Homo sapiens: one gene and its partners. The protein of the gene in region 3 purifies or fractionates together with the protein of the main gene of each other region. This does not show direct contact. Each region holds a gene or a part of one and is shown on either strand. Other genes may lie near its edges. The genes, in order: MRRF, PDCD6, NUDT13 and MCCC1.

The links.
Region 1: the proteins of NUDT13 (region 3) and MRRF purify together in Homo sapiens (affinity purification with mass spectrometry; one large-scale study listed by BioGRID and IntAct). This does not show direct contact.
Region 2: the proteins of NUDT13 (region 3) and PDCD6 fractionate together in Homo sapiens (co-fractionation; one large-scale study listed by BioGRID). This does not show direct contact.
Region 4: the proteins of NUDT13 (region 3) and MCCC1 purify together in Homo sapiens (affinity purification with mass spectrometry; one large-scale study listed by BioGRID and IntAct). This does not show direct contact.

The regions. Positions count from the first base shown.
Region 1 is NC_000009.12:122,278,319-122,281,887, forward strand, and holds part of MRRF (ribosome-recycling factor, mitochondrial isoform 1 precursor), read left to right. Parts: intron 1-2,124; coding exon 2,125-2,280; intron 2,281-3,569. UniProt on the Homo sapiens protein: Responsible for the disassembly of ribosomes from messenger RNA at the termination of mitochondrial protein biosynthesis. Acts in collaboration with GFM2. Promotes mitochondrial ribosome recycling by dissolution of intersubunit contacts.
Region 2 is NC_000005.10:302,595-306,163, forward strand, and holds part of PDCD6 (programmed cell death protein 6), read left to right. Parts: intron 1-1,582; coding exon 1,583-1,627; intron 1,628-3,569. UniProt on the Homo sapiens protein: Calcium sensor that plays a key role in processes such as endoplasmic reticulum (ER)-Golgi vesicular transport, endosomal biogenesis or membrane repair.
Region 3 is NC_000010.11:73,123,934-73,127,502, forward strand, and holds part of NUDT13 (NAD(P)H pyrophosphatase NUDT13, mitochondrial), read left to right. Parts: intron 1-280; coding exon 281-387; intron 388-1,184; coding exon 1,185-1,310; intron 1,311-1,464; coding exon 1,465-1,576; intron 1,577-2,146; exon of another isoform or gene 2,147-2,274; intron 2,275-2,701; coding exon of another isoform or gene 2,702-2,719; exon of another isoform or gene 2,720-2,739; coding exon 2,740-2,894; intron 2,895-3,569. UniProt on the Homo sapiens protein: NAD(P)H pyrophosphatase that hydrolyzes NADH into NMNH and AMP, and NADPH into NMNH and 2',5'-ADP. Has a marked preference for the reduced pyridine nucleotides.
Region 4 is NC_000003.12:183,071,957-183,075,525, reverse strand, and holds part of MCCC1 (methylcrotonoyl-CoA carboxylase subunit alpha, mitochondrial isoform 1 precursor), read left to right. Parts: intron 1-3,038; coding exon 3,039-3,160; intron 3,161-3,569.

The DNA of each region.
Region 1 (3,569 bases), on a different chromosome or scaffold from region 3:
CAGAACATTCTTAGCATGTCAAAAGTCCCCTTTGTGCTTCTTTCTAGTAAGTACTACCCTTGACCCTTTGCAGATAACTATTATTCTGACTTCTAGTAGCATGGATTCGTTTTCTCTTTTTTTTTACTTTTCAGTTTATATTCTCATATCTGGCCTTTGTACTGTACAGTTTTGTTTTCTTGTGTCTGGCCTCTGTGTTCAACATCATGTTTGTGAGACTCATTTAAATTTTTGTGTGTGTTCATTCTTTCTCATGGTTGCATAGTATTTCATTCATAAATATTACTATTCATTCCAATATTGACAGGCATATCTTTAAATTATTAATGTGCATATTTGGTTTTAAAAGTTCAAAGTTGAAGATATTATTTCAGTTGCTTCTGGCTTCTGTTGTTGCTCTTGGAAAGTGTTCTAAGTTTTAATCCTTCATGGATAATTTGTCTTTTCTCTTGGGCGTTTATAAAGATCTCTTTGTCCTTTGTTTTCTGCAGTCACAACATGTCTAGGTGTGAATTTACTTTTATTGTCCTATTTGAAACTTGTGTTTCTCAATCCGAAGATCCACATCTTTTTTTTTTTTCTTTGATCTGTCGCCCAGGCTGAAGTGCAGTGGCACTGATCTCGGCTCACTGCAACCTCCACCTCCCGGGTTCAAGCGATTCTCCTGCCCCAGCCTCCCGAGTAGCCGGGATTACAGGCACACGCCACCACGCCCAGCTAATTTTTGTAATTTTAGTAGAGATGGAGTTTCACCATTTTGGTCAGGCTGATCTTGAACTCCTGACCTCGTGATCTGCCTGCCTCGGCCCCACAAAGTGCTGGGATTATAGGCATGAGCCACTGCGCCCAGCCCCACATCTTCTATCAGTTCTGAAAAAAAACCTAAGCCATTGGTTTCAAAGCATAATGGTAACATGGGCAAATAAATGTTTTTAAAAATCACTCTGTTGCTTACCAGTTGTTTACTTTGGACGAAACATTTAAATGGCTTGTGCCTTAGATTTCTCATCTGTACCATGGGGACAATACTAATCACTATTCTTCCTACCTCAGAGAGCTATCTTGGATAGCAAGGAGGAGAATGTACTTGAAATTGCATTGCAAGTTATAATATGCCACCCAAATAGTACAGGATTGAGTTCACTGTAGATGTTCAACAAAATTTATTTAATGAATCTCAATAAATATTTGTTGAATGTTTAATGAATAAACAGTGTAAATATTGTTTAAAATTTTATTGTTTTTCTCCTTCCCCATTCCCTATAAAAGAAATGCAAGAATATTTGCATCACTCACAGAAATTATCTATGTATACACCTAGAATGTATATGAAAAATCACTACGATGATTTAGACATAAAATGAAATTATATTCAGCTCCCAATGCTGTTGATTTTCTAAAATATAAGCCATTGTCTCTACCATTGGTAGTGTTTAATGTCTGTAAACTACTATTGTTCCTTTTGTCTGTACTCTACCAGCCATCAGATATTGTGTGCATATCCTTGTCTTAGTGTCCATTTTTAATGAATTAATGTATTTCCTGTCTCTCTAATTAGATTTTGTGGAGATGGGCTAGTGAAAAGTTCATGGGTTTAAAATTAGGCAGATCTGGAACCAGATCTTGACTTTTCCATTTCCTGACCTGTGACATTAGGCAAATAGCTTTACCTTTCTCATCTTCTGTTTACTTTTCTGAAAAGTAAGGGATTAATTTAGTTATGGATTCCCTGCCATGTGTATAGTGTTCTTTTAGGTGTTTGAATGACTTAATTTGTATCCTTGTAGCAACCTTGCAATATAGATGTTACTATTCTTTTACAGGTAGGGAACTTGATACTCAGAAAGATAACTTGCCTAAGGTCATAAAGCTAGTATGCATTATAGCCAGACTTCTAACCTGGGGTGTCTGATTATAAAGTGTGCCCCCTCACTAGTATCTGAGAAGGTGTTTAGCACAGTTGACACTCAGTTAATATAGGCTCTTTTTTAGTGGAGCGATAATGTTTTATAATTTTCTAACACTTGACATTTTTCCCTGTACATAGTAGGTACTTCTTCACCAATTGCTTATTGGCTCTGTTTATGCTGCTGTTGTTTTATTCACTGAATGTTCACTTTTTAGCCAAAGGGAAAGGACAGTCCCAAACCAGAGTGAATATTAATGCTGCCTTGGTTGAGGATATAATCAACTTGGAAGAGGTGAATGAAGAAATGAAGTCTGTGATAGAAGCTCTCAAGGATAATTTCAATAAGACTCTCAATATAAGGACCTCACCAGGTTAGTGACTGAACCAATGTTCTGGGGAGGGATGTAATGGAAAGAGCATGGGTTTGGCAGAGTTGAGTTTTAGTCCCAGCTTTGCCATTTACTAACTGGTGGCCATGGGCAGTTACTTTGCTTTTCTGGTCCTCGGTTTTCTTGTTTGATTCTTAACTTACAGCTTTGGGGTGGTAGTTAAAATAAATGAGGTAACGTATTATGGTTCTAGCATAGTGCCTGGCGCATAGTTAACACTACATTTATTTATCCATGCTGCAAATTTTTGTCTACTTTGGAACTAGGCATTGTGCTAGTGCATAGTAGTAAACAAAAATAGGTATTGTCTTTGCTATCATGGAATTAGACTCTCAGAAAAATGAGATTTTTATTATGAATGTACTATAAACACATCTAGGTATTTAGTCTCATAGTAACTGACATCTTTGGTCCGATTTTTCCAATTTGTCCTGTTTGGCAGTTCTTATCCCTTACTGGGAACCAAATGAATACAGACCTGCCCACGTGAGGCATTTCTATACCCCTGAGCTTGACCAGGAAGATTCCGTTTGGGTTAATAACTTCCTGAAAGTGGCTTTTCTAAGTGGGAAATGTCAGAACTGTCTAGGCCAACTGTTTGCAGATGTGATGGAGAAGTGAGTTGTCAGCTGATGGTGCAAGCAGGCAGGAAAAATCCAGTTGCTGTTAAATTAGGCTTTTGCAAATTGTCATCATCCTAAAGTCAAACCTGGGACCCCTCTCTTAAGGTACCTGTGGGAGCTTGGGCTGCTTCTACTCACATCTTGATTAGGATAGTTCATAAGAAAACTAGAAATATTTCGCTCTTAAGAAAACCAAGTGAAAAATACAGCTCCACTTATAAACACTATCAGAAACATTACCGAGTTCAGAGATGAGATCCAGTGTGAAACTAGAAGACTGTTCCCGTCACTTGTCAACCTTTGGGCTGGGGCATTTCTGCCTTTGCTGACAGTAGAGCGTGCCATTCAATCTCTCTCAACTGTTTATTTTAAACTTGCTTATTATTTTAGGTATGAAACTGATAAAGTGCTCTGTCTCCCCTGTGTTTTCTGGCCTGTTAACATTCTGCAGCCGAAACCAGAGAGCAGTTTGAGAGGAGCTCAGGGAGAAATGTGATACTTAAAATTAGCCAGCAAGCTCCACTCTTGTTGAACTTAAAAAGATGATGGGCCTGGAAAGAGGTTGGGAGTGTAATTTGTTAAATGTTAACCTCTGAGAAAATGAGGGGCAGGAATGAGGCTGAGGGAGATTCTCGCTGGGGACAGATT
Region 2 (3,569 bases), on a different chromosome or scaffold from region 3:
TGCTGCTCTGTGTGTATGCCATGGGTTCAGGTGCACCTGCCTTTGTGGGAAGAGCACAGCTTCCCCGCATAACTGCTGGAGGGTGGGTCATCGAGTGCTGCTGTGTGTGTGGGCCACGGGTTCAGGTGCACCTGCCTTTGTGGGGAGAGCACAGCTTCCCTGCATAACTGCTGGAGGGTGGGTCATCGAGTGCTGTGTGTGTGGGCCACAGGTTCAGGTGCACCTGCCTTTGTGGGGAGAGCACAGCTTCCCTGCATAACTGCTGGAGGGCGGATCATTGAGTGCTGCTCTGTGTGTATGCCTCAGGTTCAGGTGCACCTGCCTTTGTGGGAAGAGCACAGCTTCCCTGCATAACTGCTGGAGGGCGGGATCTTCCCAAGGGGAAGTTGGGAGGTGCTCAGGCGGAGCAAATGGATTTAACTTCTGGGCTGGGAGAATGTGGTACCCCCGTGGAAGTCTCCCTGAGGAAGGAAAGGAAGGAGCTGGAGGGAGGGTGTGTGTGTCTTAGGAGGGGACGCACTTCAGGTGAGAGCGGGCATGGCACTAGGAGGAGCCCCATGAGCCCAGAGTGGTGGCACGTAGAGGCCTAAGGGACCATGCCAGCAGACCCCACCGCCCGTGCTCCACCAGGAGCCTGACATTGTTCTCTGAGATCAGGGGGCTGTCTCTGTGTACTGCCCAGGACTGTGGCATTTTTGTGCATAAAAAAAAAAAAAAACTGTGTGTCTAACACAGACGGGGTATGAGGAGAGCCACTGGTCTCTCCTGACCTTAAAAATATTTTTTTAGTTCATTTTTAGTGAGTATGGAAATTACTGAAGGTACAAATCACTCTGAAGATAGGTTCTTGTGTGCGAAGGTCATCAGTGAATCTTCATTCTCAGAGTTGATAAATGGTTGTGAGCGCTCAAGGGTATCAGATTCAACGATGAGTCTGAGGATAGTACAGCTTTCCTATTCAGTTTCAAGGAAAATCATATAAAGCCCAGACCGTAATTTGTCAGGAATGTTTGAAGTGTGGTGTGATGGATGTCTTCACCGTGCTTTAGGATGATTACTGAGGGAGAACGGAAGGAAGGGGTCTGGTACTTGCACCTTTCAGTAGAATTAGTGTGAATGCCACAGCGACCAAGCTATGTTCAGGTGTCTGCAGGCAGTGGTGGCCTTGATGATGGATTTTCTGAAATGGGAATTCGTGAAGTCCTCTAACAAAACTAAGTGCGAACTTCTCAACTTAGCTGGTGACTGCATCCTTGAAAAATTCTGTGTGTAAAATGATACAGAACCATTTCTTGGTTATCTGTTAAATAAGAGTGCATGTCCAGCCGCGATGACTGTGGACGGCCTTGGAGGTCTGGGAGGCCACGAAGGACTCCCACACACAGCAGGGTGTGAACCCACCAGGCAGTGCTTTGGCCCCCTCCCAGGAGTCATGGCAGCCGACACGTCACCTGGAGTGTCTAGAAAACCACTACCTTAGAGCCCCCACTGCTTTTCCTGGTGCCTCCAGGTATAGATCACAAACTCAGTGTCCCAGAAAGATTTTCCTTTTACTTTAACTCCTGTTGTTGTTTGTTTTCAGGCACGTGGACTCCCTTTAATCCAGTGACTGTCAGGTCGATCATATGTAAGTATCGGCAGACGGACCAACCTGGGCTGCTTTGTATCCGACCCGCTTGGGTACCCGCTTGTGTTTCCTTTGTCTGTGGGTCCGTATCACTTTGCTCCCTTCTGGAATTCCACTTAGATGAGCGTCGGCCCTTTCATCCCTCTCCCTCCGTCTCTGTACCTTTTCACATCTCTCCGTGTATGTTTGCTCTATTCTTGATTCTGTTTATTTTTAATGTACGGTGTAACCTGTCCTTTCAGTTTCTAATTCTAAAGATGACATATATTTAAAATTTCTAAATTATTAGTTACTTTCACATCTTATCTGGGTGTTTTTGATAGACATTGCTTATTTATTTTTGTGATTCCATTCTTTATTCAAATATTTCATATGATAGTCTTCAGTTTTAAGAACATGCTTTTTTGAAAAGCGCTAGATATTTGTGACATGGAGCTCCTTGACTGTGTTTGAAGTCCTTGGGAGGGTGGTCTACAGCCAGATATTTTTCCTGCTCAAGCCCACACAGAGTGACCAACTTCCTTGATGCTTCTGTAATTTTTGTTTGTTTTGTGGGTTCATGTGTAGCCTTAATGTGAGGGTCTGCATCATTTCTTTGGGTCCAGGGTCTCCCCAGCTGTATAGGCAGCTGGGTTTTTGTTTGTTTCTTTTAAGAGACAGGGTGTCCCTGTGCTGCCCAGGCCTGGTCTGGAATTCCTGGGCTCACGCAATCCTCCTGCCTCAGCCTCCCAAAAAGTGGGGATTACAGGTGTGCACCCCCATGCCCAGACGGTAGCCGGGGTGTGAGCTGAGGCTCCAGGCGCAGGCAGGTGTTCAGGAGAGTCGTGCTGTGTCTCCATCCCCCGTAGCCAGGTGGGAGCTGCAGCTCCAGGGGCAGGCAGGCCTGGGAGGCAGGTGTTCAGGAGAGTCATGTTTCCATCCCTACCCGACTTGATTTCTGGAAGGTTCCCTTTGCTGGGAGGTGCAGCCCCCTTCAGACCTCTTTAATATGGAATCCCAGGTTCAGTTCTGCCTCACAGGGACCATGGCATTGTGTCTCGAGGTTTCCCAGAGCGGCCTGGGGCTCATTCCCTCGCCTCCCATCCATGCACGTGTTTTAGTCTTGTGAGGATTCCCTGAGTTCCTTGCGGAGCCTGTGTGTGGTGAGGTGTCTGAGTCCTAGTGTGGGTGTAGCTGGGGGCTTTTCCAGATGACTGTGCCCTGCTGGTCGTGCATATGTTGCTACGTCACACTGATGGAGGGAGAGAAAACTTGGAAGTGTAGTAGTGGCAGGGCTCAGCCTTTAGTGCTAGAAAAGGTGTTGATACATGGGGAGCTACCTCCCCACCGGAGAGGAATGGCCTGGGAGCCACTCCTCTGCGGAGCCCTTACCCTGGGGTGCAGCTCACCCAGCATCCTTCCCTGCTGGTGTGTGGTGCGCAGTGGGTCCTGCACGCAACAGCATCGTCCACACACACTGCACACATCGTGGAATGGTCGTATGAAAAACAGCCCCTGGTCCACACACCACACACGTCGTGGAACGGTGCACGTCGTGGAACGGTTGTGTGAAAAACAGCCACTGGTTGCACACAGGGTTGTGGACTGTTGGGAAGAAACATCGATGCTGTTTCTCACATGATTTTTCATCCTGTGGATTTTCATTTAATTGTAACATATTTCTGATCAAACCAGGAGTAGTCTTATTGCAGTCCTGTATTAACCTCTGTTCTTGAAAAGAGACCACGTGATTTATCATTTTCTCTGCAGCAGTAATTCACACTGAATTTTTCTATGTTTTTTAGCCATATTGCAACTACATATAAAGGTAGTTATAGATTCTTTTGTATTTGGACCTGGAGTTAGACTGAAAGCAAATAGGACATAGGCGAGGGTCTGTTTCTAATTAAAGCAGGTTTTCCTGACAGGGCTGTTCCAAGACTCCACCAGTGCTGTGGGCCCT
Region 3 (3,569 bases):
GCCTTTTTTAAATTTTAGAGATGGGGTCTCACTGGAGTGCAGTGGCTATTCACAGGTAAGATCATAGCGCACTGTATGTAGCCTGGAACTCCTAATGGCCTCAAGCCATCCTCCTGCCTCAGTCTCCTGAGTAGCTGGGACTACAGGCACACGCCCCCCACACCTAGCTGAATCTTACGAGGCAAGTTTGGGAAACACTATTTTAACAGGATAGACTGGAGAGAGGCCCTGAGGCAAAGTTTGTCATTGTTTAATTTCATTATCTTTTCTAATTTTCTAGCCTCCTTACACAAACCTGAAATGGAGACAGAGCTCAAGGGGTCTTTCATTGAGCTGAGAAAGGCACTCTTTCAACTCAATGCAAGGGATGCCTCCTTGCTGTCCACGGTAGATTCTGATTTCTCATTCTGTAGGAAATTTAGTAGAGCAGTAAGTGTGGGCAAATCCATGTGTACACACAAGGCTAGAGTGACGTTTGATTTCTTCTTTTGCAGATTATAGTCCTTTCTACAAACACTGGCAGGACAATGTGCTGTAGGGAGATTGCTTATTCTTCCTTCTTCTGCCCTTGTTTTTGGCAGAACCACTGTCAAGATCATTGTCTCCTAAAGACATGCAGATCTATGGCAATAGGATCTGTCAGCCTCATAAACATTTTTAATGACCCACATAGCATGACATATACAGTATCATGTTTTCCCTAAGAGAAATTACTTTACATTGCTTTAATGACTTGCCCTCACAGCTTTAGATTTCACTTGCTAAAGTATTTTGATTGTGCATTTAATTTAAAAAGAAACCTCTAAACATTTTTTTAGTTGCAAAAAATTCCAACTTTACCAGGGAGAAGAACATTTTGGGGTGTTCAACTGTACTGGGAATGTTTTATTTTTAAGCTGGTTAGTGAATACATGGGTGTTCATTTTATTACCTCATATACTTCATATGTTTTAAATAATAATACATTTAAAAATATGCTTTCTTTTATTCAGATTTCTGATGCTAGAGGAATATGTTCAGTTAGTTTACTTGTCCTGAAATTTAAACAGTAACCATTTAAATTACGTGAGCTGTAAAGAGATTGGCATTTTTCTGTGAGTTGTTCCAGACACTAGGCCCAGTGCTGTTAAAGATGAGCCCCGCATTCTCTCCAAATGACACCAGGCCCATCATTGTGTTCCTAGGCTCAAGCTCTTCTCCGCTGGCATGATGCTCATCAGTTCTGCAGCAGAAGTGGGCAGCCCACCAAGAAGAACGTGGCTGGCAGCAAGCGTGTGTGCCCTTCCAATAATATAATCTATTATCCACAGGTAATTATTGCTGTAAGAGGACAGTAATCCAAGAAGACTGTGCGCTGCTTTGTCCTGGGGAAGGAAGCCTGTGCAATTCCTTAATTATACACTGCTTTAGCTCATTGGCAGGGCCCAAAGTGCCAGCATCTCAGTTTCCATTCCCCTTTCCTAGATGGCTCCTGTGGCGATCACGCTGGTGTCAGATGGGACCCGATGCCTGCTTGCCCGCCAAAGCTCCTTTCCCAAGGGAATGTATTCTGCCTTGGCAGGTTTTTGTGATATAGGTGAGGAGTTTAGGGGATATACAGGTGACACTGGAAGATATACAATCTTACTAATACAATCTTCTCTGTCTTGTTGCTATAGAGCTTGAATTCCCAAGCACATTCTTTTCTATCATGTCAAGAAAACTGCTTTCTGGCATTTTATATATATATATATATATATATATAAAATTTTTTCCTTTCCTTTTTTTTGAGATGGGAGTCTCACCCTGTTGCTCAGGCTGGAGTGCAGTGGTGCAATCATGGCTCATTACAGCCTCAACCTTCTGGGTTCAAGCAATCCTCCCACCTCAGCCTCCTGAATAGCTAGGACTACAGGCACAGGCTACCATGCCCGGCTAATTTTTAAAATTTTTTGTAGAGACAGGGTCTCGCCGTGTTGCCTAGGCCAGTCCTGAACTCCTGGCTTCAAGTGACCTACCTGCCTTGACCTCCCAAAGTGTTGGGATTACAGGTGTGAGCCACACTATTTTTTTAAGCAAATTTTCAAACATAGGAGATTGTTGAAAGAATTATACAGTGAACACCCATACACCCACTACCCAGATTCTATAATTTTTTTTCCTCTTCACATGTAGGCATTTGTTTGTAGGGAGGCCACAAGCTTTGTGCCTCTCATCACATTGACCCCAGATTCCTGTTGGGTGTGTTATAAACAGAGGAGCCATTCTTTAGGCCCCCTGCTCTGAGCACACCCCTAGATTCCATGAATTTTTACTACACTTACTTTATCACAAAGCTGTCCATCTATCCATTAATCTATCTTATTTTTTGATGCATAGATTGAAGATATTAGTACACTTCTTCCTATTTCAGCATGCGTAACATTTGCTAGAATTCAGTATTTATTTACAGGTTGGTTTTTTTCTCTAGTCTATTGGGGTCAAATTTGCAAATGGTGAAAAGTGGAATTTTATGAAAGCTGAGTGCAGTAGTCCCTCCTACTGTCACACTTACTTTAGACCTAGCAGACTTAAGCACTGTGGTTCAACACACAGCTCTGGACCTGATTCTTATTGTTGGAATGACTCAGAGTTTTAGGACACTCCCAAGAGCATTTCATTGAAACTTTGGAGCCAGTGTTGTGCACCTTTCTCAAATGGGCTGTCTGTATCACCCTTCTAGCCTACAGGGCTGTCCTGAATTAATCTGAGTGCTTGTAGGTGAAAGTGTGGAAGAGACCATCCGCCGAGAAGTTGCAGAAGAGGTGGGATTGGAGGTGGAAAGCCTGCAGTACTATGCATCCCAGCATTGGCCCTTCCCTAGTGGCTCACTCATGATTGCTTGCCATGCAACTGTGAAACCAGGGCAGACAGAAGTAAGTTCTCATCTTCCCTTATACTGTGATATTTCTTTTGCTTCATCCAACCTGCTCATCAGCAAGTACTTATTAAGCACTTGTCTAGTCCAGCATCATCTAGATTACATAAACATGTGTAAAATATGATTTAGGGCTGAGCACGGTGGCTCATGCCTGTAATCCCAACACTTTGGGAGGCTGATGTGGGCGGATCACTTGAGGTCAGGAGTTCAAGACCAGCCTGGCCAACATGGCAAAACTCCATCTCTACTAAAAATACAAAAATTAAGGCCGGGTGCGATGGCTCATGCCTGTAATCCCAGCACTTTGGGAGGCTGAGGTGGGCGGATCACGAGGTCAGGAGTTCAAGACCAGCCTGGCCAAGATAGTGAAACCTCATTTCAACTAAAAATACAAAAATTGGCTCGGCATGGTGGCAGGTGCCTGTAGTCCCAGCTATTTGGGAGGCTGAGGCAGGAGAATCGCTTGAACCTGGGAGGTGGAGGTTGCAGTGAGCTGAGGTCGCGCTACTGCACTCCAGCCTGGGCAACAGGGTGAGAATGCATCTTGAAAGTAAATTAATTAATTAATTTAATTAAATATGATTTATGCCCTCAAGGAATTTGCAACCTAGTAAAGGAAGCAAATAATCTCCATTCTCCCTTGCATATATGTCAATCACGAGACAATTTA
Region 4 (3,569 bases), on a different chromosome or scaffold from region 3:
GGCACTTCTCAAAAGAAGACATACATGTGACCAACAAACATGAAAAAAAGCTCAATATCACTGATCATTAGAGAAACGCAAATCAAAACCACAATGAGACACCATCTCACACCAGTCAGAATGGCTATTACTAAGAAGTCAAAAAAATAACAGATGTCAGGAGGTTGTGGAGAAAAGGGAACGCTTATACACTGTTGGTAGGAGTGTAAATTAGTTCAACCATTGTGGAAAGCAGCAGGGTGATTCCTCAAAGAGCTAAAAGCAAAACTGCCATTCAACCCAGCAATCCCATTACTGGTTGATACCCAGAGGAATATAAATTATTCTACCATAAAGACACATGTGCATGTATGTTCATTGCATCATTCACAATAGCAAAGTCATTGAATCAGCCTAAATGCCCATCAGTGACAGATTGGATGAAGAAAAGGTGGTACATATACACCACGGAATACTATGCAGCCATAATAAAGCATAAGATCACATCTTTTGCGGGAACATGGATGGAGCTGGAAGCTATTATCCTTAGCAAACTCCCACAGGAACAGAAAACCAAATACTGCATGTTCTCACTTAGAAGTGGGAGCTGAATGATAAGAACTTAAGAACACAAAGAAGGAAACAAAAGACACTGGGGTCTACCTGAGTGGGGAAGGTGGGAGGGAGAGGAGCAGAAAAGATAACTATTGAATACTGGGCTTAATACCTGGGTGACGAACTCTGTACAACAAACCCCTGTGACATGTATTCACCTGTGTAATCTTCACATGCACCCCAAACCTAAAATAAAAGTTAATAAAATAAAATTGAACTTTGGTTTAAAAGATATAAAACTCTAAACTGGCTGCAACATATGAGTATCCAGCATTTTATCTGTATCTGGCATTGCATTGTTTCCTGTCACTAGGATGTGGGTTTTTCTATTCGTATGAGTTTCCCAGATATGTGAAGCTTACCCCTTTAATTTTGAAATGTTCTTTGAGTGTAACTATTTTGAAACAGGATTGGCTGAACCTTTGTGTTTTTACATTGTTTTGGTCATAATTATAATACTCGCTCACATTTTAGAAGAACAAATCCCCTCAGGGCTACTGATGTTGGAGAGGGTGTGGCTTCATCACTCATTAAATCATCCAAGTCTTCTCTGCCTTTTGCCTCCTTCTGTTTCTTCCCTTTTTGCTGTCAGCGTGTTTACTTTTAGAAATCTTGCTGTCCTTCAGTTACTGAATTTCCTCTTCTGTGGGCTAAAATCCCAGTAAGTATGTTTGTTAAAATTCTGAGTACACTGGAAGTAACTAGGCTGAAGTCTGAGGGATGCCCTTTTCACTGAAAGTACACGTACAGTTGTCCCCTTTATCCACGGTTTTGCTTTGAGTGGTTTCAGTTACCTGCAGTCTACTATGGTGTGAAAATATTAAATGGAAAATTCCAGAAATCAACAATTGATAAGTTTCAAATTGCACGCCATTCTGAGTCACACAGTGAGATCTTGCACAGTCTGCTTTGTCCCTCCCAGGATGTGAATCGTCCCTTTGTCCAGTGTCTCCACGCTGTCTCCACTCCCCATCTGTTAGTCACTCAGGAGCCATCTAGGTTATCAAATTGACTGTCATGGTACCACCATGCTTGTGTTCAAGTCACCCTTATTTTATTTAAATCATGGCCCCAAAATGCAAGAGCAATGATGGTGGCAATTCACTTATGCTAAAGAGAAGCCATGAAATGCTTCTTTTAAGTGAAAAGGTGAAAATTCTCAAGGAAAGAAAAAAATATGTATGTTGAGGTTTCTTGGTTCTTGGTAAGGACCAAGTTTCTATCTGTGAAATTGTGAAGAAGGAAAAACAAATTCATGTCATTTTCCTGTTGCACCTCAAACTGCAAAACTTATGGCCACAGGGCATGGCAAGTACTTAGTTAAGATGGGAAAGGCATTACATTTGTGATTGGAAGACATGAACAGAAGCGTGGTCAAATTGGTATCAGTCCAGTTCTGTAGTATTCATAGTTTCAGGCATCCACTAGGGATCTTGGATAAGGGGACACTCCTGTAGACTTTAATACATGACTTTCATTTGCTTCTTAGCTTTTTTTCTGGAAAGATGACATTGATGACCTGAAGATAAGTGAGGTATTTATTGAGCTAGTGTTCTGTTTGGGGCTTTTGGATGCCATGATTTCAATTCTAGGCCAGTTTTACACAGAGACAGAATAGACAAATTCCCCTTACCACTCTGAAGCCCTTTACTTCTTGACATTCTACCCTAATTGCAATATTATTTTAAATTTAAGTATATAGAAACTTCTGTACCATATGATCCAGCAATTCCACTTTTGGTATACAGCTAGAAGAATTTAAAGCAGGGACTCAAAACAGATACTTGTATACCAATACTTGTTGTTCACAGCAGCAGTATTCACAATGTGTAGAAATAACACAATGTCCATCAAGAGATTAATGGATAAACAAAATGTGTACAAACTGGATATTATTCAACCTTAAAAACAAATGGAATTTTGATACATGTTACATGAATGAACCTTGAAAACATTATGCTAGGTGAAATAAGCCAAACTCAGACAAATTATTATACGCTTCCACTTACATGAGGTACTTTGGCTAGAGAAATTCATAAACAGAAAGTAAAATCCTGGTTACTAGGGACTAAGGAAAGGGAGGGAATGGAGAATTATGTTTGGAGATTAAAACATCCTGAGGATGGATGGTGATGACAGTTGCCCAACATTGTGAGTGTACTTAATGCCACTGAATTACATACTTGCAAGTAACTAAAATGGTCAGTGTTTTGCTATGTATATATTATCACAATAAAAAGAAATATAGATTCATCTGGTTTAGGTAAGCCTTCAGAGCTTTCATATGAATATTTCAGATATTTCTTTGGAAACAGAGTTTAATAGAGACCATACTATTACCAGTGTAGGGAGAGGCCTCCCAGAGGAAGACAGCTTCACCTGCATTAAGGTGTTGCCAGTTGAGCACTGATGAGTAAATTTTTTATTTTATTTCTCATTTCTAGGCTATCCATCCAGGATGCGGTTTTCTCTCAGAAAACATGGAATTTGCTGAACTTTGTAAGCAAGAAGGAATTATTTTTATAGGCCCTCCTCCATCTGCAATTAGAGACATGGGTATAAAGAGGTATGAGTTTATATCTTTTAAAATATAACTGTATGAAGGTCAGTTGAAATAGTTTGGGCCAGGCATGTGGCTATGCCTGTAATACCAGTGTTTTGGGAGACTGAGGCAGGAGGATAGCTTGAGGCCAGGAATTCAAGACCAGCCTGGGCAACTTAGTGAGACCTTGTCTCTCAAAATTCTTTTTTTTAAATCAGCCAGGCCTGGGCACAGTGGCTCACACCTGTAATCCCAGCACTTTGGGAGGCCAAGGTGGGAGGATCACTTGAGCCCAGAAGTTTAAGACCAGCCTGGGCAACACAGGGAGACCCTGTCTCTACAAAATTTTTTAAAAATTCCAGGCATGGTGGCACGTGCCTGTGGGTCCAGCATCTTGGGAGGCTGAGGTGGGAGGATTGCTTGAGCCCAGGAG